Linked DNA regions of Homo sapiens: all the other regions are reported to be linked to region 1. The links are microRNA targets in miRTarBase. Many come from high-throughput screens and were not tested one by one. Region 1 holds a microRNA gene; each other region holds the end of a gene's coding sequence.
The links. Region 1 holds the annotated microRNA hsa-miR-301a-5p (GCUCUGACUUUAUUGCACUACU, at 2,076-2,097, shown strand). A microRNA usually pairs through its seed, bases 2 to 8, with sites in the 3' UTR of a target mRNA and lowers its output. Matches are read on the target gene's strand: a 7mer-m8 pairs with bases 2 to 8, a 7mer-A1 pairs with bases 2 to 7 and ends in A, and an 8mer does both.

Region 2: miRTarBase lists SPATS2 as a target of hsa-miR-301a-5p. The part of its 3' UTR that is shown has no 7-base or 8-base seed match.
Region 3: miRTarBase lists ADPRH as a target of hsa-miR-301a-5p. Seed matches in the 3' UTR shown: 7mer-A1 at 2,471-2,477 and 8mer at 3,745-3,752.
Region 4: miRTarBase lists TMEM151B as a target of hsa-miR-301a-5p. Seed matches in the 3' UTR shown: 7mer-m8 at 2,702-2,708 and 7mer-m8 at 3,942-3,948.
Region 5: miRTarBase lists SPECC1L as a target of hsa-miR-301a-5p. Seed matches in the 3' UTR shown: 7mer-A1 at 4,333-4,339.

Annotation. Positions count from the first base shown.
Region 1 is chr17:59,149,284-59,153,283 of GRCh38, reverse strand. It overlaps MIR301A (microRNA 301a), which reads left to right and starts at 2,063; the gene lies at 2,063-2,148. All of the region lies in intron 1 of SKA2 (spindle and kinetochore associated complex subunit 2), which reads left to right. RefSeq lists a silencer at 3,105-3,184.
Region 2 is chr12:49,524,360-49,530,876 of GRCh38, reverse strand. It overlaps SPATS2 (spermatogenesis associated serine rich 2), which reads right to left. Exons shown (of 14, transcript NM_023071.4): 13 at 5,981-6,195; 14 at 3,452-4,933. The coding sequence ends at 4,622. Among named protein-coding and RNA genes, the nearest start is that of KCNH3, 11 kb to the left of the region's middle.
Region 3 is chr3:119,586,088-119,592,604 of GRCh38, forward strand. ADPRH (ADP-ribosylarginine hydrolase) reads left to right here. Exons shown (of 5, transcript NM_001125.4): 4 at 198-558; 5 at 1,377-3,858. The coding sequence ends at 1,791. Among named protein-coding and RNA genes, the nearest start is that of PLA1A, 8.5 kb to the right of the region's middle.
Region 4 is chr6:44,274,985-44,281,501 of GRCh38, forward strand. It overlaps TMEM151B (transmembrane protein 151B), which reads left to right. Exons shown (of 3, transcript NM_001137560.2): 3 at 419-4,460. The coding sequence ends at 1,543. DRC5 (dynein regulatory complex subunit 5) reads right to left here. Exons shown (of 5, transcript NM_182539.4): 5 at 3,750-5,406. The coding sequence ends at 5,197. Among named protein-coding and RNA genes, the nearest start is that of TMEM151B, 7.8 kb to the left of the region's middle. RefSeq lists an enhancer at 425-1,217.
Region 5 is chr22:24,414,192-24,420,708 of GRCh38, reverse strand. SPECC1L (sperm antigen with calponin homology and coiled-coil domains 1 like) reads right to left here. Exons shown (of 17, transcript NM_015330.6): 17 at 2,971-6,175. The coding sequence ends at 6,086. It overlaps SPECC1L-ADORA2A (SPECC1L-ADORA2A readthrough (NMD candidate)), which reads right to left. Exons shown (of 20, transcript NR_103546.1): 18 at 5,965-6,175. Among named protein-coding and RNA genes, the nearest start is that of ADORA2A, 10 kb to the left of the region's middle. RefSeq lists enhancers at 1-526, 1,745-2,354 and a silencer at 2,865-3,041.

The DNA.
Region 1 (4,000 bases):
AAATGTTAAGACTATCTTGCCCTTCTCCCATTCTGAATTCCTCCCTACTGATATAGATATTTCTGCTTAAATTCATAATTCATTTCTGCTAAATGATGCTAATTCTGCTTTTAACAGGTTGTTTGCTTCTCAAATTGGCTGTTTCTAATTTTTAAACTTCGTCTGGCTTTTACAGTAGAGTCAGTATTCTCACAGGACTTCTTTAGATTGAACAAATTCTCTTTTAAGTGAACAATGATGAAGTAAACATTTTGAAAAAGTAGGTTTTAGAAAATTATAAGGTAGCCAGACATTTAAACTTTTAGGTATTGTTTGAATGATGGGGTAGTATTTAAATTCTTTTTGAAGACAGGAAAAAAAGAAATGAGGTTTTTTTCCTTTCTTACATCCTTGCAAGTAAATTAGTGGTAGCTTTTTTTTTTTTCCTTTCAGGTTATTAGTTTGTTTCCATAATTATTAGGGTTTAGAAATGAATTTTTATCATGGCTCTAATTATTACTGCTTTGTGTTGACTAGATAATAAAAGACAGTGCATCTCATCTTCAGATTTACCATGTGCTTCTAGAAAAAAATGTTATACTTGTGGACCAGTTTATTTTATAAGATTTTAAGAGTAAATGATTCCTGTGCTATCTTCTGATTTTTGGTTTTACATCAGTTAAATAAAGGATTTGTCAAGGTAAAAGGAAATGCATAATATTTAATTTGAAAAGAAAGTGTTTATCCTAATTTTGTTAATACCTTAAATTTTTTAAATATTTTTCTTGTTTGTAATAACTTCCAATTCAGAAAGTTAAACACTTATCTTTTAAACAGTTGTCTTTAAAACCTGAAACTTGGCTACCAGCGTTAAATATTCTAATATTTTAGTTATGTGGCCCAGGATTTGACACCAAGACACTTATATTTCAGCTGTCCTTTGTATGAGCCCATTTCCTTAGTAGGCTCAATCCGACTAAGTAGTTGAATTGGACCGTTTAAAGGGAGGTTGGTGAAAATAATGAAAATATATTTTTGCATCAATCAACATTACTAATGGGGGAATAAGCTTATTGTAGGGCAATCTTTGTTCTCTGACTTTTTCCCCTTCACTTAATGATGGGGTGGTATTTGTTTAGCTTTGTTCTTTCGTGGTACTACTAGTGACTGTACACAAAAGGTAATGCAGTGTGATACTATGATACTATTTCTGTTTCTGGGTTTACATCTGACTTCTGATTGGGTTCTTATCCGTTAAAAAAGTTAAAATGTCAATTAGCTTGGAACTAAGGAAACTTGTTACTTAAATCTCAGTCCCACCTCCCCCCATCATTATTTTCTCTTTGACATTTCTAAGTTTGAAGGAAATGGAGATGCTTTCTGCCTCTATTTAAGATTTCAGGAGTTAACTGAAATTTTAAAATCCCCTTGGATAGTATTCAGTTAGATAGGGTTAATGTTCTGTTTAGAGCACATTGATTCCCTTCTGTTGTTATGACAGCCCTTAGTAAACTCAAGATAAAAAGCTGTAAGATGGTAAGTGCTTTTGTGTTTTCTTTGTTTAGTGGTTTAGATTCCAGAGTGATAGATTGAGTATGTAGAGATTGAGAAACTTATTATTTTACTTTTCATTTGTTTTCTTTGATACTTTTATTCAAAGGGCTTGTTTTACATGGCGTTTAATCAGTAAATTGCCTTGAAGAAGGAGCTAACCAACATCTCTGCAGAGAACAAAAATATTTTTCACAACTTTGCCTTAGTAGTAATTATAACTGGTTTTGTTAATACCAATCCTAAAGTATTAACAATACCCATTCTAATTACTATTAAGGCTTAGGGCATATTTACAAAATTCCTTTCTACATCTATGCATGTTTCTGTTCGAATGTTAATTTGTATATTAGTCATCAATAAGCAACATCACTTTGATATTTAAGTCTTATCCTTTTTTAAAAAAACATTGATATAAATGTTTTTTGGTTTTGGATGTTTTTCTGTCCAAAATGGCAACCCTACTTTAAATTCGTTTCTCACTGAAGCTTCAACCGATGCAAGATGCTTTTGTGTTCCTTTCCTACTTATTACTGCTAACGAATGCTCTGACTTTATTGCACTACTGTACTTTACAGCTAGCAGTGCAATAGTATTGTCAAAGCATCTGAAAGCAGGATGCACGCCAGAATTTTGATTCTTACCTTACATCTTTCTTCGGTATCAGTAAATAATTTACCACAACCTTTGTTGCTGAGAACTATAATGTTGTTACTAACAGTATATCTTTTAGAAAGTCATAATTTGAAAAAAAAAAACCTTTTAACTAATTAAAAACAATATTTTACTGCATTATGAAACACGTCTGGAGAATATTTTTTATATCTAAGTTGTTATGGTTTGTCTAAATGAGTAATACTTTATAATTTGTTGCTTTCTGTTACATATTTGGATAGGTTCTGTCAAACTTTAGGTTTTATTTGAGTTTTATGATGAATTGGTAGTGATGGAAACAATTTCTGCTGTATATTTTTCCTGCAGTTACTTGCCCCAAGTCATTTTTTTTTCTCCAGAGACAGAGTCTTTCTCTGTTGCCCAGGCTGGAGTGCAGTGGCCCAGTTACACCTCACTGCAGCCTTGTACTCCCGGGCTTAGATAATCCTCCCTCCTCAGCCTCCTAAGTAGCTGGGACCACAGGCGTGTCCTACCATGCCTGGCTAATATTTTCTTGAAATTTTTTGTGGAGACAGGGTCTCACTGTGTTGCCGAGGTTGGTCTTGAACTCCTGGGCTCAAACAGTCCTCTTGCCTTGGCCTCCCAGAGTGCTGGGATTATAGGTGTGAGCCACTGTGCCTAGTCCTCCAAATCTTAATTGGTGTTAATTTTGTGTATTGTCTAGGAAATGGTTGAATTTAAAACCTAAGAGTGTTTGTTTTACAGTTTATTCTTATGAGATACAATAGTGTGGATTCATCACTTTTAAAAAATATGAATTTTATTGAGATACAATTATATAAAATAAAAGTAAGTAAGCTATTTGTTAAGCAAAGCCGAAGTCTTGCTGTGTTGCCCAGCTGGAGGGCAGCGACTATTCACAGAGGCAATCATAATGCAGCACAGCCTAGAACTCCTGGCTTCAAGCAATCCTCCCACTTCAGCCTCCTGAGTAGCTTGGACTACAGGGGTGTGGCATGCCCAGTGAACTGACGAGTTTTGACAAATGTATACAGTCATGTAACCACCACCACAGCCAGGATATAGAACATTTCTGTTACTTTACAAAAAGCTCCTTTGTGGCCAGGCATGGTGGTGCACCTGTAGACCTAGCTACTCGGGTGGCTGAGGTGGGAAGATCACTCGAGCCCAGTAGTTCCAGACCAGGCTGAGCAACAGAGTGAGACCCCTACATTCCTTTGTGCCTCTTTGTGGTCAACCTCTTCTTCCCCAAGTCCCTGGCAACCACTGATCTCTAGTTTAACTTTTCCTAGAATTTCATATAAATGGAATCATACATTATACAGTCTTTTGTGTCTGGCTTCTTGCACTTAGCATAATGCTTTGAGATTCATCCATGTTGTATATTAGCAGTTGGACAGTTTTTATTGCTGAGTAGTATTCATTGTATAGAATATCACAAACTCTTTATCCACCAACTTATAGACATCGGGTCATTTCCACGTTTTGCATATTATGAATAAAATGGCTGTGGTTGGTCTCGAATTCTTGAGCTCAAGTGATCCTCCTGTGTTGCCCTCCCAAATGTCTTTGTTTAATTTTTTTTTTAGCAATATTTTTTTCTTTTTCTTTAGAGACAGGGTCTCATACTGTCACCCAGGCTGGAGTGCGGTGGTGTGATCATAGCTTACTGTACCATCAAACTCCTAGGCTCAAGCAATCCCACCTCAGCTTGCTGAGTAGCTGGAACTACAGGTGTGCATCACCATACCTGGCTAGTTGAAAAATTTTTTTGTAGAGATGAAGTCTCACTATGTTGCCAGGCTGGTTCTCTAACTCCTGGGCTCAAATGATC
Region 2 (6,517 bases), not on the chromosome of region 1:
TGCAGCAATACTTGTAATAGCAGAAAACTGAAAACCATCATTAGGGACTGGTTAAACTAATAATAACAAACTTATACAATGGAATACTATGCAGCCACAGAACAGAGGTCTATACCTCGTAGACCTCCATCCACGTCAGTAAGTAGAAATATACTTGATTTTTCTTAAAACAAAACAAAAAAATGAGTTACAAAAAGTGAGGACAAGTGAAAAAAGCAACTTGTATAAGGGTATGCACAGTATGAATCCCATTTATGCAAAAGAAAGAAAAGGTACTTCTATGTTTGGGTTTAGAAAGTTTCTGGAAAGACATGTAAGAAACCAGCGATTTCTTCGGGGGAGTGGGACAAGGTAGAGAAAACTTTTAAATTTCTACTATGTACCCTTTTTTGTGTTTGTTTTTGTTTTGAGACCGAGTCTCACTGTGTTGTCCAGGCTGGAGTGCAGTGGCGCGATCTCAGCTCACTGCAACCTCCGCCTCCCGGGTTCAAGAGATTCTCCTGCCTCAGCCTCCCAAGTAGCTGGGATTACAGGCACCCGCCACCATGCCCGGCTAATTTTTTTTGTATTTTTAGTGGAGACGGGGTTTCACCATGTTGTCCAAGCTGGTCTGAAAACTCCTGACCTCAGGTGATCTGCCAGCTTCGGCCTCCCAAAGTGCTGGGATTACAGGCGTGAGCCACCGCACCCTGTCCCCCGCCTTTTTTTTTGTGAGACGGAGTCTCGCTCTGTCGCCCAGGCTGGAGTGCAGTGGCAAGATCTCGGCTCACTGCAAGCTCCGCCTCCCGGGTTCACGCCATTCTCCTGCCTCAGCCTCCCGAGTAGCTAGGACTACAGGCGCCCGCCACCACGCCCGGCTAATTTTTTCTATTTTTTAGTAGAGACGGGGTTTCACTGTGTTAGCCATGATGGTCTCGTCTCGATTTCCTGACCTTGTGATCTGCCCGCCTGGGCTCCCAAAGTACTGGTATTACAGGCGTGAGCCACCGCGCCCAGCCCGGTCCCTTTTTTTTAAAAAAAAAAAAAAAAAAAAAAAAAAAAAAGCTGGTCTGCACTTTTGTTTAAAAGCACATTTTTTTTAAATCGCCATAAATTAGGGGCATAGGAAATATATGATGTTCATAATGAAGCCATGCTAATTTAAATTTTGCCTCTCAAGTGTCATGTAACTGGCAGAGCTAAACAACTTAAAGTTGCAGTCCTATCTCTTAAGTTGGGCAGGGTGAGACATTTGTCTGAAAGAGGAAGTGGAAAGAGAAGGACAAACAATGGTTAGGTAAGGCCTCTTGGTGCACCAGTGGTAACTGCCCAGGGGATGTATCTTCCTTCTTTTGGGAAGCCTAGAACCACTATGGGCAATGAGGAATGGGCTACACAATTCAAACTTAGGATAAACCTAACTTCTCATTGAAGAAGAGTCAAATTGGCAAATTTAGGAGAAGATCCACAGCATGAGATCCTAAATGAATTATAGTTTACACATATTATTTAAAAAACTACAGAATATACATAGTACTATGATCTTTTTTTTCTTGAGACAGTTTCGTTTTTTTTTTTTTTTTTTGAGAGTCTCTCTCTGTCGCCAGGCTAGAGTGCAGTGGTGCGATCTCAGCTCACTGCAACCTCCGACTCCTGGTTCAAGTGATTCTCCTGCCTCAGCCTCCTGAGTAGCTGGGATTACAGGCACCAGCCACCATGCCCAGCTAATTTTTGTATTTTTAGTAGAGACGGGGTTTCACCATGTTGGCCAAGATGGTCTCGATCTCCTGACCTCATGATTTGCCCGCCTCAGCCTCCCAAAGTGCTGGGATTACAGGCAAGAGCCACCGCGCCTAGCTGAGACAGAATTTTGCTCTTGTTGCCCAGGCTGGTGTGCAATGGCGTGATCTCGGCTCACCACAACCTCCGCCTTCGAGGTTCACGTGATTCTCGTGCCTCAGCCTCCTGAGTAGTTGGGATTACAGGCATGCACCACCACACCCAGCTGATTTTGCATTTTTAGTAGAGATGGGGTTTCTCCATGTTGGTCAGACTGGTCTTGAACTCCCGACCTCAGGTGATCCACCCACCTCAGCCTCCCAAAGTGCTGGGATTACAGGCGTGAGCCACCGCACCCAGCCCAGTATGATCTTTGTATAAAAAAAATTAAAAACCCATATACTCATGTGTATATGCACATACATGGTTTAAAAACAGTCTAACCAGGAGTGATTGTGCACAACTGTAGTCCAGCTACTCAGGAGGCTGAGGCAGGAGGATTGCTTAAGCCCAAGAGTCCCTTCTAATCATGTCCGTAAATAGCTACTGCACTCCAGCCTGGGCAACACAGTGAGACCCCATTTCTAAAAAGAAAAAAGGTGTAGAAGGATATATGCCAAATTAACAGTCATTACCCCTGAGAAGTGGAAAGATGGATAACTTTTTTTCCTTTTATATTTCTGTACTGATATTTTAAATACTACTTTCGTAATAAAAACTTTTTTAATTCATAATTTTCAAACTTTTTGTGGTCATGAAAAATTTTCAAATATTTTTCTATAAGGAGATTTTAATTTCAACTTCAAGGCATTTTTGATAAACATGCCTTGTCCCATCTGTCTGGGTGGTTAAGTACGGTCTTGCCTGGATACAGGGACAGACCTCATAATCCTTCAAGGTCACTTCAATCTCTGGATTTCTGATAAAGTACAGGTAAGCAATTAATCAGAAATGCAGGGCTTTTTCCTGACACCCAGCAGGCTGTTGGTGTCGTTGGACAAATTCCCCAAAATGAGGTGCTCTTGGAAAATACCCAGAACTCCTTGACTACTGTTTTCTTTACTGACAGACAGACAGACACACACACTCTCTCTGAATGTGTTCAACCAACCTGAACCCTGGCAGCTCAGCTTCACTCAGCCAAGGAGGCAAGGGAAGCCCTGAGGCAGCTACGTTCTGCACGGCTGCCACTTACAGTCTGGGCTTCAGACTTGGGAGAACACATGCCAGAGAAAGAAAAGCTCTGCTGTGATTAAATCACAGATGCTGGGGGTGAGTGTGGGGTGGAAGGGTCTGGCACCCATGCCACCTGCTACACGCAGGAGCTCAATTATACGGTTACGTTCAATACTCAGTCAAGGGACAGGGAGTTGGGGAGAGCAGTGCCATTATAAACTTTGGTTACCTGGGAGAGCCTGGAGAGCTGTGGTTTTCTTAAAGTGGTTAAGTTCTCCTTTGGAAAGTCACCATTCCCTATCCTATGATCCTTTCTCACTAGGAACAACTGCATTTGCTCTTCCTGGCTTTCATATTTTAATTTGGTTCTGAAGCTACGCAGTGGTGGCAGACAAATGACTTGGGAATCAGATACCCTCATTTAATCCTGGAACAAGCTGTCTGAGTGACTTCTACCCCCATGAGGCCCAAAGAAAAACATAATGAAATGAAACCACTTGCTGCTATGAAACAAAAGTGGGCATATTTATGCAGTTGTTTTTATTTATTCAACTGTAAAGACTGCAGCAATTTTTTTGATGAGTAATGCCTTAGATTAACACTAATTATATTGCTATAAATTTGGTTCAGGATCAGAATAGGGTTCAGGAAAGGGAGAGAACAAAAAAAAAAGTCTCCAAACATTAAAACAGAAAAATGCTTTTTTTTTTTTTTTTGAGACTGAGTCTTGCTCTGTCTCCCAGGCTGGAGTGCAGTGGCACAATCTCAGCTCACTGCAGCCTCCGCCTCCTGGGTTCAAGCGATTCTCCTGCCTCAGCCTCCTGAGTAGCTGAGATTACAGGCACACGCCACCATGCTCAGCTAATTTTTGTATTTTTAGTACAGACAGGGTTTCACCATGTTGGCCAGGCTGGTCTTGAACTCCTGACCTAGTGATCCACCCGCCTCAGCCTCCCAAAGTGCTGGGATTACAGGCATGAGCCACAACGCCCAACCTTTTTTTTTTTAAACTTTAATTAAATGCTACTTTCTCATAGACTTCCCTAGACTGGTTTGCAATCTAAGGTAATAGGAAACAAGGCATTGGGCATTTTGAAGAAACTGCAGGTTAAGCTATGGTGCCAAGCAGAAGACTAAACACTGATTTGAGTGTCAAATCTCCAGCACATTCTGGGATAGAGGCAGGTTCTCAAATGTTTCCTAGTGTTCTTTCCTTTTCACTAATTAAATTTTCCCTTCTCTGGCGAATCCAGTGCAGTATACAACCCCCTGATTGCCTCTCTTGGTCAAATAGTTGTTAGAAGGGAACCTGTCAGGCACCTGTGGCTTCGGCTTAGATTGGAAAGGTGACAGACTAGCTCTGATTCACCTCCTCCTGAGACAGCCTGGACAGTGGAGGGATCAACTGGAAGGCCGAAACCTGGTAACAGCTGCCTCTGATTCCTGGTGGAAATGACCAACCAGATTCAATCCATATCACTGGGAAAGATCAAGGAAAAAAAATAGCTTCCCCTCCAAAAATGGTAAAGAGGAAATAAGGAGACAAGAAACCAAAAATACTTAGAATGGCACAAAAAGTGATACGCATAAACTTCTTTTTGTTATTACATCTAACTGTAAGTTTCCTAAAGTCCAGTTATCAAGTTGAATTGTGTGGATAGAGGAGAGAGGCCAACTGGATTTTCTCTCAAGAGTTCACGGCTTCAGTCTGAGAGGTCCTGGGTTTGCGCTGGGGGAGCCCCTTTTTGAATGAAGGCGTGGGAGGGCTGGGCTCCATGCTGACTCCAGTTCCATTGGTCCCTGCAGAGTGAGTCTGGCCTCTTTCAATGGTGTTTCCTGGTGCCTGAGATGGAGCACTCTGATACCTGGAACCAGATGAATACCACGAGCTGTTTCTGTAACGACCCATACTGTCATGCCGCCCTTGGTTCATGGGGTCATTGGACTTTTGGCCTTGTGGCCTATAGCCCTGTCCTCCTCGTCTGTTCCCTGGCAATACCTAAAGATGAAAGAATACAATGTTCAAGGTGCTCTAGCATTATGGTACCCCATTCGTTCACTTTACAGGAGTATTCTGAAAGCAGAATTGTGGTATCCCATGCTTGGGACTCAGTTATCTCTCAAGACTCAAAGAATTCTCTCAGCCAATCCAACCTAGCCACTACTTCAGAACTAATCCATCTTTCCCTGCTCTTCATGCCCAGGCTCTTCTCCACTGAAGAATTTACTTTTCTTTAGCTGGATGCAAGAAGAAAGATAAGGAAGAAAGAACATTCTCTGGGTTGTTACAAGCCCTCGATTGGACAAGTATATTATATTATGTCTGAACTCTGCAGATAAAAGGCCATTGGTAAAGATAATACACATTTGGAATAATAAAGTAAACATCACTATGGCCTGCTTTGCTAAATGTCATGAACTACAGATTAAAGTATGCTGCTGTGGCATTCAGCACATCTTTCGCATTATAATCCGGAAAGCTTACGGTATGGGATTTTATTTTTGTCCTCCAATTCCAAACATCATACCAGTTCTGAAGAATTACTGACAGTACTGCCTTGGATTGCTCTTGTGTTTATTCTTCAAACAGGAGAAGAACCTATGGATTACTCCTCAGCTTTCTAGTGTTTTCCCCCCATCCCCACCAGTTCACTCTCTCTTTCCCTGTAAATTCCACATTGTGCTTCTAGGGAGCTGCTGCTTTCAGATGCACACTGGTAAAACTGCCACTTGTGGTGCCTGTCTACCTTGAGATGGGTGCACGACTCCCAGTGTGACTAATTACCAGGCAATACTATCTACAACAGCAGGGATCACTGCCAACACAAGAAAGTCAGCAGTTCTTGGCAACAGGAAATCTAAACTGGCTGGCAGTTTGGAACATACGTATCTAATGCTTTCTCAGGAACTAACTTGGGTTGGAGGGATTCAAAACAGGCATGGAATGGGAATAGAGAGGAAGATAATATACTGAGCTAACAGCATTTAAGCTTTGACAATCTGGAGGGTTTTCTTCCTAACATGCTCAGTGTAGAAGCTAGGTTACCTCCCGAAGTGGCTGGTAGGGCTGGCCACTGGAGTTTGCTATGGCTGCAGGAGTCTCTCCCGGTGCAAAGTTTTTCTTGTTAGCACTTGTAAGGCTGGGAGGAGAGGCACAGGTGGAAGAGGAAGCAGCAGAGGCATCACTTGGGCTACTCAAGGACACAGATGTAACTGAGCTACATCGGGATCTGGTCGAATAGCTGTTCTTTGGATGAGACACTGAAACAGAAATATGAGGAATATATGATCATATGATAGAACAGCACAATGGATAAGGTTTCTACTTTCTCAATTTCACAATGAGCAATTTAAGATAAAGAACTGTCTATTCGAATAAAGAAAAACCTATAAAACTGGTAACAGGAAGAAAAATCTCCCTTCTGCCCTCTTCCTCCACTTCCTCCAAAGCCCCACTGCTTTGTAAAGGAATTCTTAGACAAGAGAACAGTTAAAATCAAAGTTACCCATTCCCCACCAACTAATGACTTCTTGGGATTGGATCTAGTACTACCTAAACTCCTGACTATGGCTCTAGCAGCTG
Region 3 (6,517 bases), not on the chromosome of region 1:
CGTTATCTTGCCAAGGGTTATACATAAAGAAAGGCACATTGTTGGGTGGGGTTTGGAGTTTTGGGGCATGCATCATCATATTTTTTGGCTCTCCCTTTCCATCAAAAATACTTGGAGACAGAGTTTAGTTATTTATTCCTGCTGGGGCCTTTGCTTTGGTTATGCTAACCCCCATCCCTTATCCGACTCTTCCCCAGGTGGTGCCTCGGTGCACAACGCCATGCAGCTGAAGCCGGGCAAGCCCAATGGCTGGAGGATTCCCTTCAACAGCCATGAGGGCGGCTGTGGGGCTGCCATGCGGGCCATGTGCATCGGTCTCAGGTTCCCACACCATAGCCAACTGGACACACTGATCCAAGTGAGCATCGAGAGTGGTCGGATGACCCACCACCACCCAACAGGCTACCTGGGGGCCCTTGCGTCTGCTCTTTTTACAGCCTATGCTGTGAATAGCAGACCACCCTTGCAGTGGGGAAAAGGACTGATGGAGCTGCTACCAGAAGCTAAAAAGTACATTGTCCAATCAGGCTACTTTGTAGAGGAAAATCTTCAACACTGGTGAGTCTGTAAGCGCACGCCCTGCTCAAACACGGTTGAATCTGTGCGTGTACATCCACCTGCACATATATGTCTTGTATTCAGAGATCACAGCAACCCTCATGGTTTTCACCCCCAGCCCCCTTTCTACCCATCTGCTAAGGATTTCAAGTTCCCTTCCAGTAATGATTCTACAAAGTAGCCAAGTGGATACCTCAATGAATAGGGCAGCTGTGGTGTTTCCCTCTTACACGGAATCCTGTCATTTTTGTGGCTATCCTATTCTGCCATGAATTTTCATGCCTATTTCCTACTTTCCTGGAATTTGCTTTTTCAGTGTTGTCTTGGTATACAAATAATATTTTGAAATCCTTGGTTAAAATTCCAGAGATACGTTTTTCCACTAGCTAACTAATAAGTGGTAAGGCCACATCTTCCCCTTCTCGTGAGTTCACTTCACATTGTCTTTCTTAGAATAAAAAGAGGCTTTCTGCTGAAGTCACCCACAGTTGTGATGTCTTGAAGTTCCCCTTTAAAAGGTCATTACTCTCGACCCTCCCAGGGAAAACAAACCTGTATTTCTTACCCTTTAACTTGATATGTATCTCTTTATTTAGCAACAGGATCAATGCCTTATTTATGTAGATCCTTATGAAAAATGTATTGAATGAATGGTACTTATATAGAAATAATTTTGATGTTTAAATAGTTTATGATATTACTGCAAGAAGCCGAAGTTATGTTGGATTTTTCTCTGTTCACACATCCATCTGGTGCTTTTTGTTATGACTTTTCACTTTATTTTTTTCAATTGACTCTAGATTTTTTCCTTTCTACAGGTCCTACTTCCAAACCAAATGGGAAAATTACCTAAAACTTAGAGGGATTTTGGATGGAGAATCAGCCCCTACCTTCCCTGAGTCTTTCGGTGTGAAGGAGAGGGATCAGTTCTACACCTCCCTGAGCTACTCTGGCTGGGGTGGCAGCAGTGGGCACGATGCCCCCATGATTGCCTACGATGCTGTTCTTGCTGCAGGAGACTCCTGGAAGGAGCTTGCCCACCGAGCCTTTTTCCATGGTGGAGACAGTGATTCTACAGCTGCCATTGCTGGCTGCTGGTGGGGAGTTATGTATGGTTTTAAAGGAGTGAGTCCCTCCAACTATGAGAAACTAGAATACAGAAACCGGCTGGAAGAGACAGCTAGGGCTTTATATTCTCTCGGGTCAAAAGAAGACACTGTAATTTCCCTTTAGGGAGACGTGATGTTCACTTCTGATGGATTCTTCTTTTGTGTATTTCCTTTTCTGCTATTTCTTTTCAGTTTTTCCAAAGTCAAGAGTCTTAACCTTGTACTCAGGGAATTTTGAGATAACAAGTCCCTTGGGCACCTTAAGCTCAGTTTTTTCAGGCTCATCCTGTTCTTCCAGAATCTATCCCTTTTCTTACACTGAAGAGTCCTTTAGCTCAATTGATAGGGTCAGCGTCTCGCAAGCAAAAAATCTCATGACCTCATATTTGAGTCTTCATTTTCATCATCTACTTGTTCTAAAAGTTTTTTCTGTTTGTCTCAAGTTGGGTTCCCACAAAGTGGACTTTGAGACAAAGATCTGAATGCAAGCAGTTTATATGGGAGATGATTCCAGGAAATACCGATATGAGAATGGGGAAATGAAACCAGGAAGGGAAGAGAGCTAGTATGGGGTATGTTAATGAGCAGGTTTCCACTGTGGGCGGTTGGCACTCTGCCATCTGAGTCCTCTGCCTAAAGCATTCCTCAGAACTGTCCCATTTGAAGGGCAAGCAAACCTGGGGTATTTATCCACTGACTTCCATCTGACACTGGTTGAGGACCACTGCCAGGGATGCTAACTCCCTGGTAATTCTTGGCTTACCCTTTGTACAAACCAAACCTTAGTGTCTTCAGGTAAAGACTCAGAGATACTTGCAGGGGCAAGCTGTAAAGGGCATGGGAACAGTGAGGGACATATGTGGGGTCCTAACAATATCTGCTAGGCTGGTCTACCTCCTAAATATACTCTGAATCTATCACCTCTATTGCCTTCTTGCACTGAGGATTTTTCAGCTGGATTTCTGCAATCCAAGCTACTCAAGTCTGGGAGATGCTGCTCTGAGCTGCTCTCAGTACTCTCCTCATCATGGCAGTTAACACATTACCAATTTTGTTATTGTCTGTTTGCTTGTTTGCATTATTTCTAAACAGAACCTAGCACAGTGCTTGGGCAGCCAATAGGCATTAATCAGTATCTATTGAGTGTTATGAACTAGCCTCCTAGCTCGTGCTTCCCTCATTACCCTCCAGAGTTATGTTTACGAATAACAAATTGACCATGCTAAACTAATCATGTTCCAATGAATACATCACCTTTCTTCATTTCTTGATGCTCTTCCCAATCCTTGTCTACCTGATAATAAATTCTTACTTGTCCTTCAAGACCCAACTCAGATAGATAGAGCTTCCTGAGTGAAACCTGCTTTGATTGTTCAGGCACTTGGCCACCTTCTCCTCACTCCTCCCACAGCCTTCTGTCTTGGCCTTGTCATCACATCAATCCTGTTGTGTGGTGCTGTGTGTCTTCTGGGTCAGTCCTAGGCACATGCTGCCCAGCACATGTCCACCTGGGAAATGAGATGCCATCGTCACATTCATTTGGTCACCCTCAGTCCAGCCAGTGGGCTTGCTCTCATTTGGCCTGTTCTCAGGGGTGGGAAGGAAGAGCGTCCCTTCCTTCTCCTTTTGAGAAAACCACAGAACTATGACTCTCATGATTTTTCCTTTGTGAAATCCCTGGTTTTCAGCTGGAAGCGGTGGGTAAATGAGGTCTGATGATAGCAGTCCTGCCACCTTCTAGTTCATCCCATAGGAATGTTTTTCCAAGTCCTTCCAGTCTTTTTAGAACGTGGTGGAGGAGGGTTGTGTGTGCCCCAGGGGGTCGGGGGTAGGGGATGCAGGGAGGATCTTAGCATTTGTTGTTTTCTAGTGCAGGGCTTTAGCCACAATTGTAAACAACAGGAAAAGGCTCTTTAGAGATCCTATTAGATTTGCTTTGCCGATTGTCACTCTTCATCACAGGCACATTTCAAAAAGAGGTTAGACTTTCAGACTTCTTTTTTCTCAAACCTCAAAACTTCCACCCCAAACTTCGCTCTCAGCTGGTGACTTTGCTTCTTTATGTGTGTGTATGTGTGTCAGAGAAAGAGAGAGAGAGAGAGAGAAGGGAGGATGAGAACGAATGGGGGGAAGAGATAAACTTTATGCATAACATTAGGGTAAATCAATAAAGATGGTCTGACACATCGTATGAATTTGCCATTCTTATCAAGTTAATCTATGCATATTGAACAACAGAAGAGGTCATATGTGACATTTCAAATGATGCTTTTTGGACCTGCTGTGTGATGCTGCTTCATTTGCTTTCTTTGTTAGCCAAGATTGCTACATGTTGTCTAGAAGTCTTGGCAATAGTTGTTTTTTGTTTATTTGTTTGTTTGTTTTAGATCTATAAAATTAGCATTGACCTCATTCACTCTTCTTCAAGATTCTCCAACCACCACATTCTCCATTTATTCTTCTTTCTGTACCTATCTGGAGCGAGTAAACTTGCATCTTTTTAAAACAGCCACTGAGCTACTAGGACATTGAGGGGAAGGAATGGGGATTAACTTCACAATCCAACCAGCCTCCCCGGCCAGCTTCTCAACAATGGCTGCCTGGGGTCTCACTGAGGATCCACAGGTCATTTAGATAGGGACTGGGGAGCAGCCTACCATCATTTGTTTTACTCTCTGGGCTTGGGGGTTGAGAAGAGTAATTCCTAGGGAGTAGGTGAAGCTCTTTCCATTTGGGGAAGGATAAAGAACAGAGGAAGAGAATATTGCTGTGTGTCAGATCATTCACAACAACCCATTAATAGATGAAGAAATTGGGCTCAGAGAGGTTGCCATCTGTCCAAAGTCACACAGGATGAGATGGAACTGGGGTTTAAAACCAGGTCTGTTTATCCTACAAAGGATGGAAAAGAACCAAACCAAGGTGCTTTTCCCAGTCTCATGCAGCACTCACACTTCTGACACCCAAAGGTGTGAGAGTTGTTTCTCCATGCACCAAGCAAGTTTCTAACAGACACCAAGTGAGTGTCCTCTAATTCAGTTCCGATGCTATCTTCTGGATGATAGCATCAGATTCCACAAGTTAAGGCACAAGACTGCCCCCTCCTCCCCCTCACCACTGCTTCAGATGCTGACCACAAGTCCCAGGTTGTGGCCTGTGCTTCTGACCAACCAGCTGTAAATCAGGTTCCCACAAAACCCCCCTCAGGTTTGATTAATTTGATGGAGTGGCTCACAGAACTCAGGAAAACACTTAGTTTACTGGTTTGTTAAAGGATATTACAAAGGCTATAAATGTCTAGCCAGTTGGAAGAGATGCACAGGGCAAAGCATGTGGGAAGGGGTGTGGAGCTTCAGTGACCTCTCCAGGTATACCACCCCTTAGGAAGCTCCATGGGTTCAGCTGTCCAAATCCAGTTCTTTTAGCTTTTTATAGAGGCTTATTGTGCCGGCCTGATTGACTAAATCATTGGCCATTTGGAATCAACTCAGCCTTTAGGCCCCCACCCCTCCCTGCGGGTCATGAGGTGGGTGGGGACAAAAGTTGCAACCCTCTAATCACATGATTGATCCCCCTGGCAACAAGCCCCCATCCAGAGGCTATCCAGGAGCCCACCAAAAAGTCACCTCACTGGAACAAAAGATGCTCCTCTCACCCGGGAATTATCAAGGGATTTAGGAGTTCTGTGTCAGGAACGAGGGTCAAAGACCAAATATTTGAACAAAAGATTAGCACCCCTATCTACGAGGGTTTTAGGAGCTCTGCGTCAGAAACTCAGGCGTAGAGACCAGATACATATTTCTTACTATATCATCAGACCACGTCTTTAAAGCCCGTTTTCTTTGTACACACTCTACTACACTCTAATTGTTAGCTGTTTAAGTATTAGAAAATCATTCCTTAGAGGCAAAATGGTGTAGTATGGTGACAGTGTAAGCCTGTGCTCTCTTCACCTTCCTACAACTAAGTGGTGATGTCAAGAGGAAAGGCTAGGTGTAGGTTTGAGATCCGCATTTGGCAGCAGGGGAAGGGAAGGGACAGAGTGAGCCCAGGAAAAATTGTGAAGTGGGCAGAGAATCTTCACTCCCCTTCAGACTCTTTCCCCTTCTCAGGCAGCTCCCCCACCTCTGCACTCATTTTGCCCCTTGGTCACTGTAGAGACCCCACCCAATGCTTCGGACATGATCTAGACTTATCTGTTCGCACTGCGTTTGGTTATATCTGTCCCCACTTGCCAAGGTCCTTCACCTTTGTGGGCCTTGAGGTCATTGTCTCTACCAGCTGGTGGCCTCAGGCAAGTGACTCCTCTCAGGGTATTTGAGCTTGGAGCCCCTGAATTTTCAATACTAATGCCCAAAGAACATGAGTCTAAAATGGGGTTGTCTGACTTGGAGATAAGAGCAAAGAAAGAATCCTTTGGTCTCCCAATCTACAGAGCTGTGGATAGAAACATTTACTAATAGACAGCCATGCTTCAAAGCAGTGTTTCTCATCATTTTGGCTGGTATATGGACAACCCTCCTCCCCATTGTCAATGCCAGCAGATGGAAGTGACACAGTCCATCTGTTGGCCCACTTCAGGGGCCGGCTGTGTCTTCTTACTATATCTTCCTTCTAAAATACACTTTCTATTGGAGACTGCTCTAGTGAAGGTGACATTCTGAGGTGAGGTGGACTCTCTACTGTCCCTTATTCCACCAGCCCTGAATCCAGGAGACCTAGGAGGGGGGTGCTCTGAAGGTGTGAATTTTTTCCTTGTTGCAGGCACATGGTAATTGCTATGTAATTAGGACTAAGAAAAGGCATGCTCTGTGATCTTTTCCAGAGAGCTGCCATTGAAACCCGGCTCT
Region 4 (6,517 bases), not on the chromosome of region 1:
GTGGGCGCCTGTAGTCCCAGCTACTCGGGAGGCTGAGGCGGGAGCATGGCATGAACCCGGGAGGCGGAGCTTGCAGTGAGCCGAGATGGCGCCACTGCACTCCAGCCTGGGCGACAGAGCCAGACTCCATCTCAAAAAAAAAAAAAAAAAAAGAAAAAGAAAAAGAAAAAAAATTTAAATGCGCACAGGTAGGGCTGGTTCTAGTCCGGTCATCACGTCTGATTACACAGAGGGCGTCAGTTGCCCTGTAAGTCAGACGGAAAGATCCTAACCAGCTCCAGCCGGCACCTAAACCAAGACAGACTTAGGGTCCGACCAGGCAACCAGAGCACAGATGGGGCGGGAAAGGGTGAGTGGGCAGAAGCGGGCACCAATGACGGGCTCCCCGCGACCCCGCCGCCTGCCCCCCGCGCCGCAGGTCTACCACGAACGCGTCAACACGCACGTGGCGGAGGCTGAGTTCGACTACGCGCGCTGCGGCGTTCGCGACGTGTCCAAGACGCTGGTGGGGCTGGAGGGCGCGCCGGCCACGCGGCTGCGCTTCACCAAGTGCTTCAGTTTCGCCAGCGTGGAGGCCGAGAACGCGTACCTGTGCCAGCGCGCGCGCTTCTTCGCAGAGAACGAGGGCCTAGACGACTACATGGAGGCACGCGAGGGCATGCACCTCAAGAACGTGGACTTCCGTGAGTTCATGGTGGCCTTCCCGGACCCGGCCCGGCCGCCCTGGTACGCCTGCTCGTCGGCCTTCTGGGCCGCGGCGCTGCTCACGCTGTCGTGGCCGCTGCGAGTGCTGGCCGAGTACCGCACGGCCTACGCGCACTACCACGTGGAGAAGCTATTTGGCCTGGAGGGCCCGGGCTCGGCCAGCAGCGCAGGCGGTGGCCTCAGCCCCAGCGATGAGCTGCTGCCCCCGCTCACCCACCGCCTGCCGCGGGTCAACACAGTAGACAGCACGGAGCTCGAGTGGCACATCCGCTCCAACCAGCAGCTGGTGCCCAGCTACTCTGAGGCGGTGCTCATGGACCTGGCGGGGCTCGGGACGCGCTGCGGCGGGGCAGGCGGCGGCTACGCGCCCTCGTGCCGCTACGGTGGGGTAGGCGGCCCGGGCGCGGCGGGCGTGGCTCCCTACCGGCGCAGCTGCGAGCACTGCCAGCGCGCCGTCAGCAGCTCGTCTATCTTCTCGCGCAGCGCCCTAAGCATCTGCGCCAGCCCGCGGGCCGGCCCGGGGCCCGGTGGGGGCGCGGGCTGCGGGGGCAGCCGCTTCTCGCTGGGCCGTCTCTACGGCTCCCGGCGCAGCTGCCTGTGGCGCAGCCGCAGCGGGAGCGTCAACGAGGCCAGCTGCCCCACGGAGCAGACGCGGCTGTCCAGCCAGGCCAGCATGGGGGACGACGAGGACGACGACGAGGAGGAGGCCGGGCCGCCGCCGCCCTACCACGACGCCCTCTACTTTCCGGTCCTCATCGTCCACCGGCAGGAGGGGTGTCTGGGCCACAGCCACCGGCCGCTGCACCGCCACGGCTCCTGCGTAGAGACCTCACTGTGACCTCCGGCCCCGGAGTGGCCCGCGCCGTCCTCCCGCCTGCCCCTCGCCGGACTGTGCTCCCTCTGCGACGCAGGGCGAGTCACCACGGTGACTGAGGCCGCGCGGGGGGCAGGGAAAGGGAGGTGAGGGCCGCAAGACAGGCCCGGATGGGGCCGAGACCCCCGCTGTCCCTGTACATAAAGAGACCGATGGGTGGGAGGGGGTCGGCTGCTCCCCGAGATCCCCCTGGCAGAGTCATTCTTCCAGCCCCAACCCTGAGTTCCTAAAGGGACACCTCCCTCCTGTCCAGCCCTTCAACAGATCTTCTGTTAGATGACAACCGTGCCGTGGGCCCCGCGTTGGGCCTTGTCTGAAGGGAGAGGCCCTGGCATGCGGATGGGAGATTTAGAGGCTGTGGAGAAGGGAACTTGGGGCTTTCCTTCCTTCGTGGCCTCACTCCCCTGGGGCCTCTCTCTATGGAGGGGGCAATGGTTTGGTGACCAGCAGGCTGGATTCCAACTAGCTAATGCATTCAGCAGGTCTGAGGCTGGGGCCAGGTGTCAGCCCTAGGCCTCCATCCAACACCGTGGAAATGTTGCTGCCCTCTTCTTGGCGCTGACCCCAAGATTGGGGTTTCCTTTCTGCCGCTCCCTCCACTGTTGTTTATCTAACTGGGCCCCCACTCCAGGTCCAGAGGGACTGTGCTCACTGCACAGACATCACTCACCTTCCGCTCCCCAGTCCTGCAGAGCTGTTGCCAGGGTGCAGTGGGGAGGGGAGTGAAATGTGGAGGACTGTGTACCTCAGTCCTCTCTCTAAACTCCTCAGCCTCCCAACAGGGGCCTCCTCACCTGGGTTCTGAGTGTATACCCCTTTTAGAGAGTGAGATGCCACCCGGGCAGCACTCGTTAAAGCTGGCCAGCACGAGTGACTAAGGGGAGAGAGCATGACATAGACCTGGGTGGCAACGGGGACCTCTGGAAGCAGGTGGGAGTAAGAGAGGAGAGGGCAGTGGAGGGTAGAGGAAAAGGACCTCCAGAGGTGGGGTGTCTGTGGGGGCGGCCTTTGCCTCCCTAAACCTGTGCGGAGGAGTGGAGTGTGCTTGTCGCTCAAACACATCTCTGGGGGACTGAGGACGTTGTCACAAGCCCCAACTGGAGAAATAATTCCAATGGCAGGGTCAGAGGCAAGCATTCTCTAAATCTTGCCCAACCCTTCCATCCTTCCCTATCCTATGAGCTGAAGCCCTGCTGTGTGTCGCAGGGTCTTCAAAGGGGCATCCTGCCACCACCCCAGGGCGCTGGCCCCACGTCCTGTTCCCCTAAAGCTCTGACACCGCCTTCTCTCCGTGTGCTCCCCCCACCACCTCCACCCTGATGTGCTTCAGTGTGCATGTCTGTGAACAGCCCTCCTGCCCTGCCAACTCCCCTGGCTAAAGTCTCCCCAGCAGATTTAGCACCCAGGGATTGAGCTCACATTTCAGGCTAGAGAGGATAACCCTTGGGCCACCCACATCTCTCACCCCTGATGCTTCTTACTTCGCCTGAGCCATCAGAACTCCTCCTTACCCTCCTTCAGCCCCTCTCATCTTCCTTCAGCCCAGCCAGGCCTGCACCACCAACTGTGTGGCCTCCACCTATGCAACATCGCCTCTGGCTCCCCTTCCCTTCTTCCTAGCGGGGAGTGCGAGGGGCCCAAATTGTGGGGATACCATGGCCCATGGCTTCTAAAGGGTTTAGCTTTACTTTCAGGTAGAGATGGCTGAGTGAGGAGGGAGAAGAGGCTAGAGAGAGGGAGGCTTGGGCAGGGGAAACAGCTGCCCACCAGGTTTTCCTGGACAGCAGTGCCCACCTGCCTACTAGCACTGAACCTGCCTGGACCCTGAGTCTGTGCTCCTTGGGGGCCTGGCGTTTGGAGCACCCTTCTTTCCTCTGAATGGACATCTGTGAGGTACAGGTGGTGAGCTGCAGCCTCAGGCTCCATTTCTTAGCCAGCTGGCACCTGGATGTCATGCTTTGTGTGGGGACAGCCTGGCCACCTCAGGGCTCCAAGGAAGGAGGAACGTGGCTCCTCCTCCCTCAGGCCTGTTCCTGAGACAGAGCCTGGTCTCACAAGAGGGGAAGGGGGACCTCTATTATTATTTTTGCCTGTATTGACCATTTCTGCCTAGGTCGTCTCAGACAGCCTCATCTCCCACACATGCACAGACTTAGAGAGAAACCAATTCTTTGGTCTATTTTCTTGGTAGCTTTACTGATTGCCAGGGAAAATGAAAACCAGAAAATTAATTAATCTCTAAAATTAAACTTTACACTGAATGTTCTTGTTTCTCTAATTAGAACTTCTGCTAGCAGCTGTGGCTATACACACACACACACACACACACACCCTCACACCTACACGTTTGCACTCCGGAACTGTCAGAGGGTGTCAGGCACAGACAGACTCTAGGTTGCCTAGACAGGCACACACATGCAGTCACTCCCAAGCCCCCTTTGGTGCTCTGCTCAGCGCCTGCTTAGCGGAAGGAGTCCCTGGAGAGCAGGCACTCCTGGACTGGGGTTGTAGCCCATGACCTGCCCTTTGGGGACACAGTTCTGGAGGCTCTGGGCCAATGAATCAGCCCAAGGAGGATGGGCAATGGCGCTCAGCCTGAATCAGTCAGCTAGGTCTCTTGTGGCCCTGGGGGCTGATGTGATTCCTGTAGGTGTGGCCCCAGGGTGGACAGCTACAGAGTGATGGGGGACTCATGTAGGGCACCTGGAAGGCTCCATGTGTCCTGGGGACAAGGGCTTGTGGGGTGGGCTGGGCCTGGCTGGGGAGAAGACAGGTCTCTGTCAATTGGGTGCATCACACTGTGGCCTTTTTGTCGTGGATTTAAGCGCAAAGATTGTACAAATCAAACTGGTGGATAATAAAGTCGTGGATGACTCACTGACTTCCTGTCCCAGTGTGGCACTTCTTTCCCTCCCTCCCAGGGAAGCTCTCTGGGGTGGGTGGCAGGGATTGTGTCATCCTTCCCTGGAAGTTGTCATCTACAGTTGCCTCCCCAGAGGAGTCCACTGGGTCTGAGCCCCTGGTGTCAGCTCATTGTCCCCTTCCCAGGTTGGGAGTTGGGGAACTAGGGGATGGCGTGGCCTGTAGAACTGGATCACTTAAAGCAGAGTCAAGCAACAGGGAAATGCATCTACAGGGATGAGGGTGGCAGAGAGAGCCAGGCATAGCCCTGCTGTAGCCAGAGGGTGTGTGTGTGTGTGTGTGTGTGTGTGTGTGTGTGTGTGTGTGTGTGTTTGAAGATCAAGGATCTGTTTGGTAGAGAAGAAAATGGTGGGGAGTCAGGGAGGCAGGCAGCCCCAACGGGAGAATCTGGCAGGCACAGTCCCTCAGACACCTCTCTGACTTCCCTGTTCCTGAAAGAAGTTGGTCATTTGTGGGTGTCCAGTAATATCCTTTCCCTGGGCACAAAGGCTGGGTCCCTACTGCATACCCTTTCTTCCCCCATGCCAGGCTCCCTTCCCTGCCTCATGTCTCCATCCATACAACCCTTGATCACTCCAAGGTTATTCACAGTCCCCCTCCCCGCTCCCTCTGAACCAGTGTGATACTCTGCAGCAGGCATGGCAGGGGTATGAAATGAGGGATGGGGCTGGGGCCATGATCCAAGTCAGGTCATTTTATCCCACAGAGTTCTCAGGGCCATTGGCAGTTATGGTTGACATGAAGTGGCTGGGATTCAGGGCCCGCTGGCGGGCTGCTTCTCGGTTTGCGTAGAGGGCCTGGCCAATGAGGTACTCGCTTTCCTGGGCCACATCTGACAGGCGCAAGTCAAATTCCAGGAGGGTCTTGTTGTCTGACATGCCTTCCAGGAGCTGCTTCCCACCGTCCTGGGAGAAGGGTGCAAAGGAAGGGGTCATTTACATCACTACCCAGGATCTGACACACATACTACACATTTTCAGGTAGATGTGACTAAAACAAAAGTTTCACAAAACAATACTTAACCTATTTGTGACGCATGATGACATATTCTGTTCTTTTCCATTTGAAAAATGGTAGCCAATACCCACTAAATTGACATCTCAACCCTACTAGTTTGAAAAACATGAATCTCTGGCAATGAAGATAATTCCATTCCTTTGGTTCAGCCATGGGCATGTGGGACAAATCTAATGAGATGTGAGGGGGAAGCTGAGAGAGGGTGGCTTCTGGGAAGCTTCTCCTCATTCCAAAAAGAGAAGAAAAGGGAGCAGGTGTTCTCCCGGTTTCTGCCTCTGGGCATGTCCCTGTATGAGATGTCAGAACTGTGGCAGCCATCTTGGGACTGACAGAAGCACTAGCGAGGCATTGGCCATGAGACTGGGGTGGGCAGAGCAGAGGGTAGCACTGAACCCAGGGGTTTACCGACCCTACAACCCTCTAATTCTGGTTGTGGGAGACACTGAATATTCCTCCTGCTTAAGCCATTTCTGATTAAGCTTTTTATTACTTGCAGTCAACAGCACCCCCTCTAGAAACTGTGTGTGTGTGTGTGTGCGCGCATGCACGTGTGTGTGCGTGTATGTGCCTGTGTAGGTGAGCAAGGCTGTTCTCATGGGGAGGTTTAGTAGAGGGTTCAGTGACCTAATGGAGGGCCCTGCTCAATGGTCATCACAGCTCCAACCCCTGCTGGGCTGGGTGGGCTAGCCCCAATGTGAAAGAATTTCACGTTGGGAGGCAGAATGCTACCATTCTGTGGTTGTGACCCAGTAGTGTGTTGCAAAGTCAATTTAATGGGTCACAGAAGCATTTTAAAAAATACAATAGAATGGAATGTAAAGGAAAATATCAGCATATATCACGTCATAAATTTCAATATTATGTTTATGTCAGTGTTCATGTAAATTGCATTTTTTTTTTGAGACGGAGTCTCGCACTGTCACCCAGGCTGGAGTGCAGGGGCACGATCTCAGCTCACTGCAATCTCCGCCTCCTGGGTTCAAGCAATTCTCCTGCCTC
Region 5 (6,517 bases), not on the chromosome of region 1:
CTGGCAGGGCTGTCCCCAAACTGCCTGCCCCACAAGCCAGCTTGTCTTCTCCAGGGAGGGGCCTGTGTTCTCGGCACCACGTGCCTTAAGGCCACCTCCTCAGTCTTGGCCTTGCTGCCCCCTTGCCAGCCCCGTACCCACCTCAGCTGAGTGCTGTCCTCAGATACCAAGGCTGTGGGGCTGGGGGAGGTCCCTGTGCAGGTGCCTGGGCTGCCCGCCTCCCCCACCCCCAGGCCCAAGGGAGCAACAAGGCTGAGGGGCAGAAGCTCTCCAATTGCAACCACTGCCCTTTGGTGGGCACGGGGAGGCCCCTGGCAGGCCCCAGCTTCTGGCTCCAGGCGTTGGTTTCCCTGCCCAGCCCCAGGCAGGCTTTGAAAAGGCTGTGGGCGCCCACCCTTCCTTCCATCCAGGCTCCAGATCCTCAGGCCCGGCGGCGGCGGGGCCAGCTGGGCCTCCCCAGCTCCAGGATTCCGGCCCTTTGTTCCTGCCCAGGATGCACCTGGTGGCCTCTGGCCCTCATTGTTTGCTCTGAGGCCAGCTGAGCTGCATCAGGAGCAAGACATGCCAGGCCCAGGACAAGCAGCCAGTGAGCAGGGGAAGGGTCCCTGGAAACCAACTGGGTCACCCTGGGTGCTCCCCAACTTCTCCAATGGGGCAGGGACCTCACAAGGCTCCAGTTTATCCTAACAGAGGTCCTGCAAAGGCAGAAGAAACATACGGAGGAAGTGATCTCCGAGTCACTGGTCATCATCCTCCAACTCACCCCACCCCACTCAAGATGTTCACCCCATATCTGCTTCTGGGTGTCAGGACAAACAGCAACCCGCTAGCAACCCGGCCTTGGGGATGATCGGCGTAGATGTGAAAGCAGGCCCTGAGGGGAGTGGAGCCCTGGCTCCAGCGTGGGCAGTGACAGTCCTCTGCAGCCCTCATGCCGGGGCTTGCCACTCATCACCCCGATGGCTCTAAGCCACCTGCCCGCTCTCCCTGTGGCCCCAGCCCCATGACCTGCCAGGACTGTACCCCATGTCAGAGTGCCTGATATGAGGGCCCAGAAGGGGGCCCTGCTTTGCAGAGGTGGAAACAAGCCCAGCACATCCCAAGTGTCGGTGGCTGACCTGGGGAGGACCTGTGTGTCCCGACTCCTCAGTGCTCTTCCTGGCAGAAGTCTTGGGTGCAACCCAGCCCTGCGATGGCCTGTCCTTCCCCTCAGGGCACACCTGCTTCCTGCCTGGTGGGTGCCTGCCTTGGCCCTTCTTTTCTGCTTGGCCCTTAAGACTGCAGACCCCCTGCCACCCCTTCCTCACAAACACGGGAGGGTGCAGACAAAAGACCAGACCTTTCAGCACCTGCTCTGGGCCTGGTGCAGTCAACTGGCAAGCTGTGCCCGGTCTCTCCGCACCCCTCCCCCTGCCTCACAGCAGGCTCCCCGAGGCACTCCCAGCCTGAGAGGGCTGGTCAGGTGGAGTCCTCTCCTGTCAGGCAGGAGAGATGGAGTCCTCTCTTGTGCCCGGCCCAGCTCCTGTAGATGCCCAGTAAGGTCCAGACCTGTTGGGGTCAAAGCTCCTGCCAGAATCCAGATCCCCGAATCTCAGCAACCCAGGAGTCTGTCCTCACTCACCTGATGTACGGGGAAGTGGCTGCGAGCATGTTGAGACTGGTTCTGTCTGCCCCGGTCCCTCACCTAAGGGACAACCTAAAATAGAACCCAGGCTACCCCGAGGTTGCACGAAGTGCCGGCCCCGTGGGGCTGGGGCCATAGAGCTGGCCAGGCAGGGCTGCTGGGGCAGGGCGTGGCGTCTGGGCACAGGACCGCAGGCCCTTGAGGGTGCTGGAGGGGTGTAAGGGATCCTTCTGGAATCTCTCCACTCTCCCTGGAATCTCTCCACTCTCCCTGGAATCTCACAGCTTCCCCCTTCCACCTATTAAGCTGTCCCTGAGATCCTGGAACTTTGAGTCAAGGTATAAACGATGCCCTCCCCATAGGTGCTGCCCTGGGAAGCAGCAGAGCCAGCTCCAAATTGAGGGGCACAGCACTGTGGACGGGCCCCGCAGGCCCGTAACTTGGGACAGAAGGATCCCCTCAGGGCCACCCTAATCAGCATCCAAGGCAGCTGCACTGCAGGCGGGACGGATGGAGGATCTGGGAGTGACCGCCCCACCTGGGAGTGGTGGCTAAGGGGTCTGTGCTGCCCAGGACAAGGCCCAGGTGCGCTGGCAGGGACGGCAGTCCCCTGCTGACGTGTGGAGGCCGCTGCACACAGGGCCCGCCCGGCAGGCTCCATGGATGCTTGCTGACCACTAGGGCAGAACCCCTTCCGCACAGCAGAGGACACAACGAAGGGGCTGCTGAGCAGGGAGGAGCTGAGTCCAAGCCCAGTCCTGCCCCAGTCCTTTCACGCCCAGCTCCCAGCTCTACAGCTGTTGCCCACTGCCCACCCCAGGGTACCTGCAGCTGTTGGCACCCAGGGGTGCAGCTCCCAAGCACTTGCAGGTCACAGTGCAACTCCTGGCTTACTCAGGGCCAAGGCAGTTGCTGGGCTCCCAACCCTGAGGAGTCTCCACCTGGGAAGGGCATTCACTACATGCCCTCGTGTGCAGGAAGCACCACCACCATGGGCCTTTTGCATGTGACGTGGACAAGGTGGTAAGTGTTCTCCAGGCCAGCTCAGTGCATTCACAATCACTGTAGTGACTCACACCTGTAATCCCAAGGCTCTGGGAGGCCAAGGCGAGAGGATTGCTTCAGCCCAGAAGTGCAAGACCAGCTTGGGCAACATGGCGAAAAGCCCATTTCTACCAAAAAAAAAAAAAGAAAAAATAAATAAACAAACTGCTGGAGATGGTGGCACACACCTGTGGTCCCAGCTACTCAGGAGGCTGAGGTGGGAGGATTGCTGGAGCCCTGGAGGTTAAGGCTGTGGTGAGCCGTGATCGACCCCGTCTCGAAAAAACCAACAAAAAACAATGCACAGGCAAAAAAGTTTATCTGGTTGCCTCTGGGTAGGATACCTTTTTTCTTTTTCTCTATTTTATACATCCTGACAATTATTTCCAAGATGATACATGCCTCAAAACAAACAAAACCCCTCGAGACACACTCCCCAGCCCCCAGGGAAGGCATGTGTCTGGGCTGTGTAGGGGCTTCCGCTCTCCTGGGGGTAGCTCTGCCACGGTCTCTGGGGTCTTGGCATCTGTCACAGAACCCTAGTGGTTACAGGGCTCACTGTCCCACAGCCCCAGGCCACACGGTGATGTGCTGTGGCCCAGGGGAGGCCACCCTGGACTCCTGGTCAGGATCTGCCCACATGAGGAAGTGCGCCTTGGGGTAGGGCCACAGGCTGGCTCAGAGGTGCCCTTCTCTCCACAGCCAGTCCCAGGAGGGAGCTGGGTTCTGGTTTATGCGACGTCAGAGGGACGGCAGGGAGTGGAGGGCAAGCTAGAAAAGCCCAAGCTTGTTGTTTCAGCCATTTTAATACATTCAAGAATATTTACTAGAACAACATTTAAACGTATCGTCGGTCCGCAGAAGCCTGGGATCGAGAGAAATAGAAACGCGACTGGCCCTTTTGCAGTAAAGCTTGTGCTTGAAGGGAGAAGAGGCAAAGTGGCTTCTTGGAGACTTCGTGCCAGATGCCACAGGACTGAGAGCATCTCCAAATGTCACTTTAAACACGTGTGAGCATCTATAGTCATTCCTAAAGCCCACAGTGTCCTAAGGATCCTATTAGACGAGGCAAAAGGCAATGCTTCTGGAACCCTCTCCCTTGCAGCTCTGCACGCAAACCTTCCCCAAGGAGGGGCCCGAGGCAAGCCTCTAGATAGGCGGGGCCAAGCCCTCCCCGTGCCCACCCTCTTTCCCTGTTGCTGACCTCAGGCCTGATGCTGGACCCATGAGACTCCCAGAGGGAAAACACAGATACAGCCCATCCATCCATGGCCACCTTCCTCCAGAAGATCCTGGGGACCCCTACCCCCCCATCCCATGAGGCACCAGGGCTGGGCTCGCATGGCCAGCAAGGGATAAAGTTGGGAACTGCAGACCAGGGGAAGCCCCCTCATTCTTAGGGCAAAACAGCCCCTGAAGGACAAAATAAATAAACCAAACCATGACCAGACAGCTGGATCCGGACAGGTGGAGTGGCCTCTGTGAAGGCAAATGAGAGCAAAAGTGGGAACTGAGGACACCTAAGTGGAGAGACACTTAAAAACAGTAATTCTCACATGAACATCAGTGGCTCATGCCAACAGCAGAGCTGGCCATCAACAGAGGAACAGCAACAAAAACACAACTCAGACAGGGGGCGGGACGGGGCCAGGAGTCTGCGGGGGTCTCTGATATGCTTTGTGGCATGACTTTGCTTGCCTGGCCTCTCCTTTCTTAGCTGAAAACAGGCATTTCACCAAAGGGCATCCAGCCAGCGGCAGCAGCCTGAGCTCCCAGGCTGACATCTGGGCAGGGCTGATGGGCAGCTTCTGGCCATCTGGTGACCAGGTGTGCCGCCAGCTGCACCCACATGCACAGCCCCTTTCCTAATAACCACATTCTAGGTTACGTAGACACGTTAAACTCCTATTCTAGAACATCGTGCTTGAATGCAGACCCCTCAGCCCACAATCGGGCTGGCTGGGCCTCCTGTGAGCCCCTCATTGCATCCAGTCTGTGGGGCAGTGACCCCGCTTCCACTGGTGGCTGGTCTTCCTCATGGTGCTATGCAGGTGCCAAACACAGTTATATTCTCAAAGGTACAGGTCTTGTCTGGACATTGTTCAAACCAATAGCTACTGCGTTAGGCACACGGGAGATCCCTATTCCCAAAAATAGCTGTTGAGTTCTGGCCTGAGAGCATCTCCAGTGACCACCTTTAAATAAGGCTTTGGTTCAAACAGCATGGACCCAGCACCTGGGGAGGGTGGGCACAGGGGGCATGGACCCAGTACCTGGGGAGGGCGGGCATGGTGGTAGGAGACAACTCAACCACTGAGTCTTGGAGGTCCTGCCTTGGCCACGGAGGGCAGTGGCTGCCCTCACAAGAAGAGTTAAGGCACTTTCTTTAACTCTGGCCTAGGAGAATTATGTCTTAGTGACTCAGTGAGTTTAAATGACACTGCCTGGGCTCCCTAAAGTTGTTTACTTTTCTCCTATTTCCTGCTTTATTCCTTGCTCTCACCATGCTAATGTACAGATGTTGTTTAGATTTCTATGCTTATTGAAACAATGTAACTTTGGTACTAACAGAACAGGAGCGACCTTTTCCAGCATTGCTCGTAACAAAACAAAAATGTTAACTAGAAAAACTCCTTATGATGAAGAAATCTAAAGCCAGAGCTGGGACTCCAAACCCCTTCCAGGCTGGAAGACAGGTCGCTGAGTCCAGGCAAGGGGCCCCCGTAACTGCTTCCCGCCAGAAAGCCCAGCCGCGTGAGTGCAGCAGCAGCACCCCAGCCCTGGCGTGCCCGCACCACGCCCTCTAGATACTCTCCTAGCTCAGGCTGAACACGCCTGGATTGTGTCGGCCGGGACAGCCCCGTCAGGTGTGGGGCAGCTGACCCACGTCTGTGGTGAACATGCTCCTCCAAACTAGGACGGTGAAGGGCCCAGGGCGCTGGGAACTGCCAGGCGCTGACTCTCCTTCTGGGTTCTCACCAGCACCGGAACCCACCCCAGCCAATAGTCAGGAAGTGCCGCGGCCGAGCCTTCATCAACCCTAGTGAGTTTCCCACAGAACTGAATCCCTTTTCCCAAATTCAGCTGTGCATGAGCCCTTTTTGTTTGGTGCCCTGGAGCACTAGTGTAGTTCAATATTCTCTTCAGAAGGAAAACTCCAGCAGCCACCGGCCTGCAGGATGTGTGCTGAGCCCACATGACCTGAATGGACGGGTCATGTGGGAGGGGCCCTGGTGGGAGCTGTGGGCCACACGGCTGAGTTCTTCCAATACGGAAGCCCCGAGCTGGAGGCTCACACGCTGTGGGGCAGCCCAGAGTTGCTGGAAGCTTTACAGGGGTGCGTAGCTAATGGCGTCGGTGTCGCTCGGTCGCTGTGGAGGGGTACCCCCGCTATTGGGGCGGCTCCTCCCGGCATGCTCAGGTCTCAAAGTACTTGTAGATCGCCGTCACATACAGCATCACGTTCTGCCAGTCGGGTCGTTCAGTCCGTACCATTTCATTAATGTCCTGACAGACAAGGAAGACGCTTGGTTAGAACTGCAGGTCACCTCCAGGCTGTGCCAATGGGCTCTGCCATAGCAACATGGGCTCTTGGAGTTGGATGGGGCCTTGAAATATTTTCTAGGCCTAATTACACATTTTTAAAGCCTGGCCAAGAATGCTTCCTCCCTGGGCATCAGCATCGTCCCCAGGCCATCCACCCCTGCCCCAGAGCCACAGGCAAGGTGCCTCCCTGCTCACGGCTCTGCAGGATGGGAAGGGTTTCATCCAGTCTGGGCGGAGGAACTTCCTCCCTCCTCCCCGCGCCTGCCTCTCTTCTTAAACCACTCCTTGGGGGACCCTTCTGAG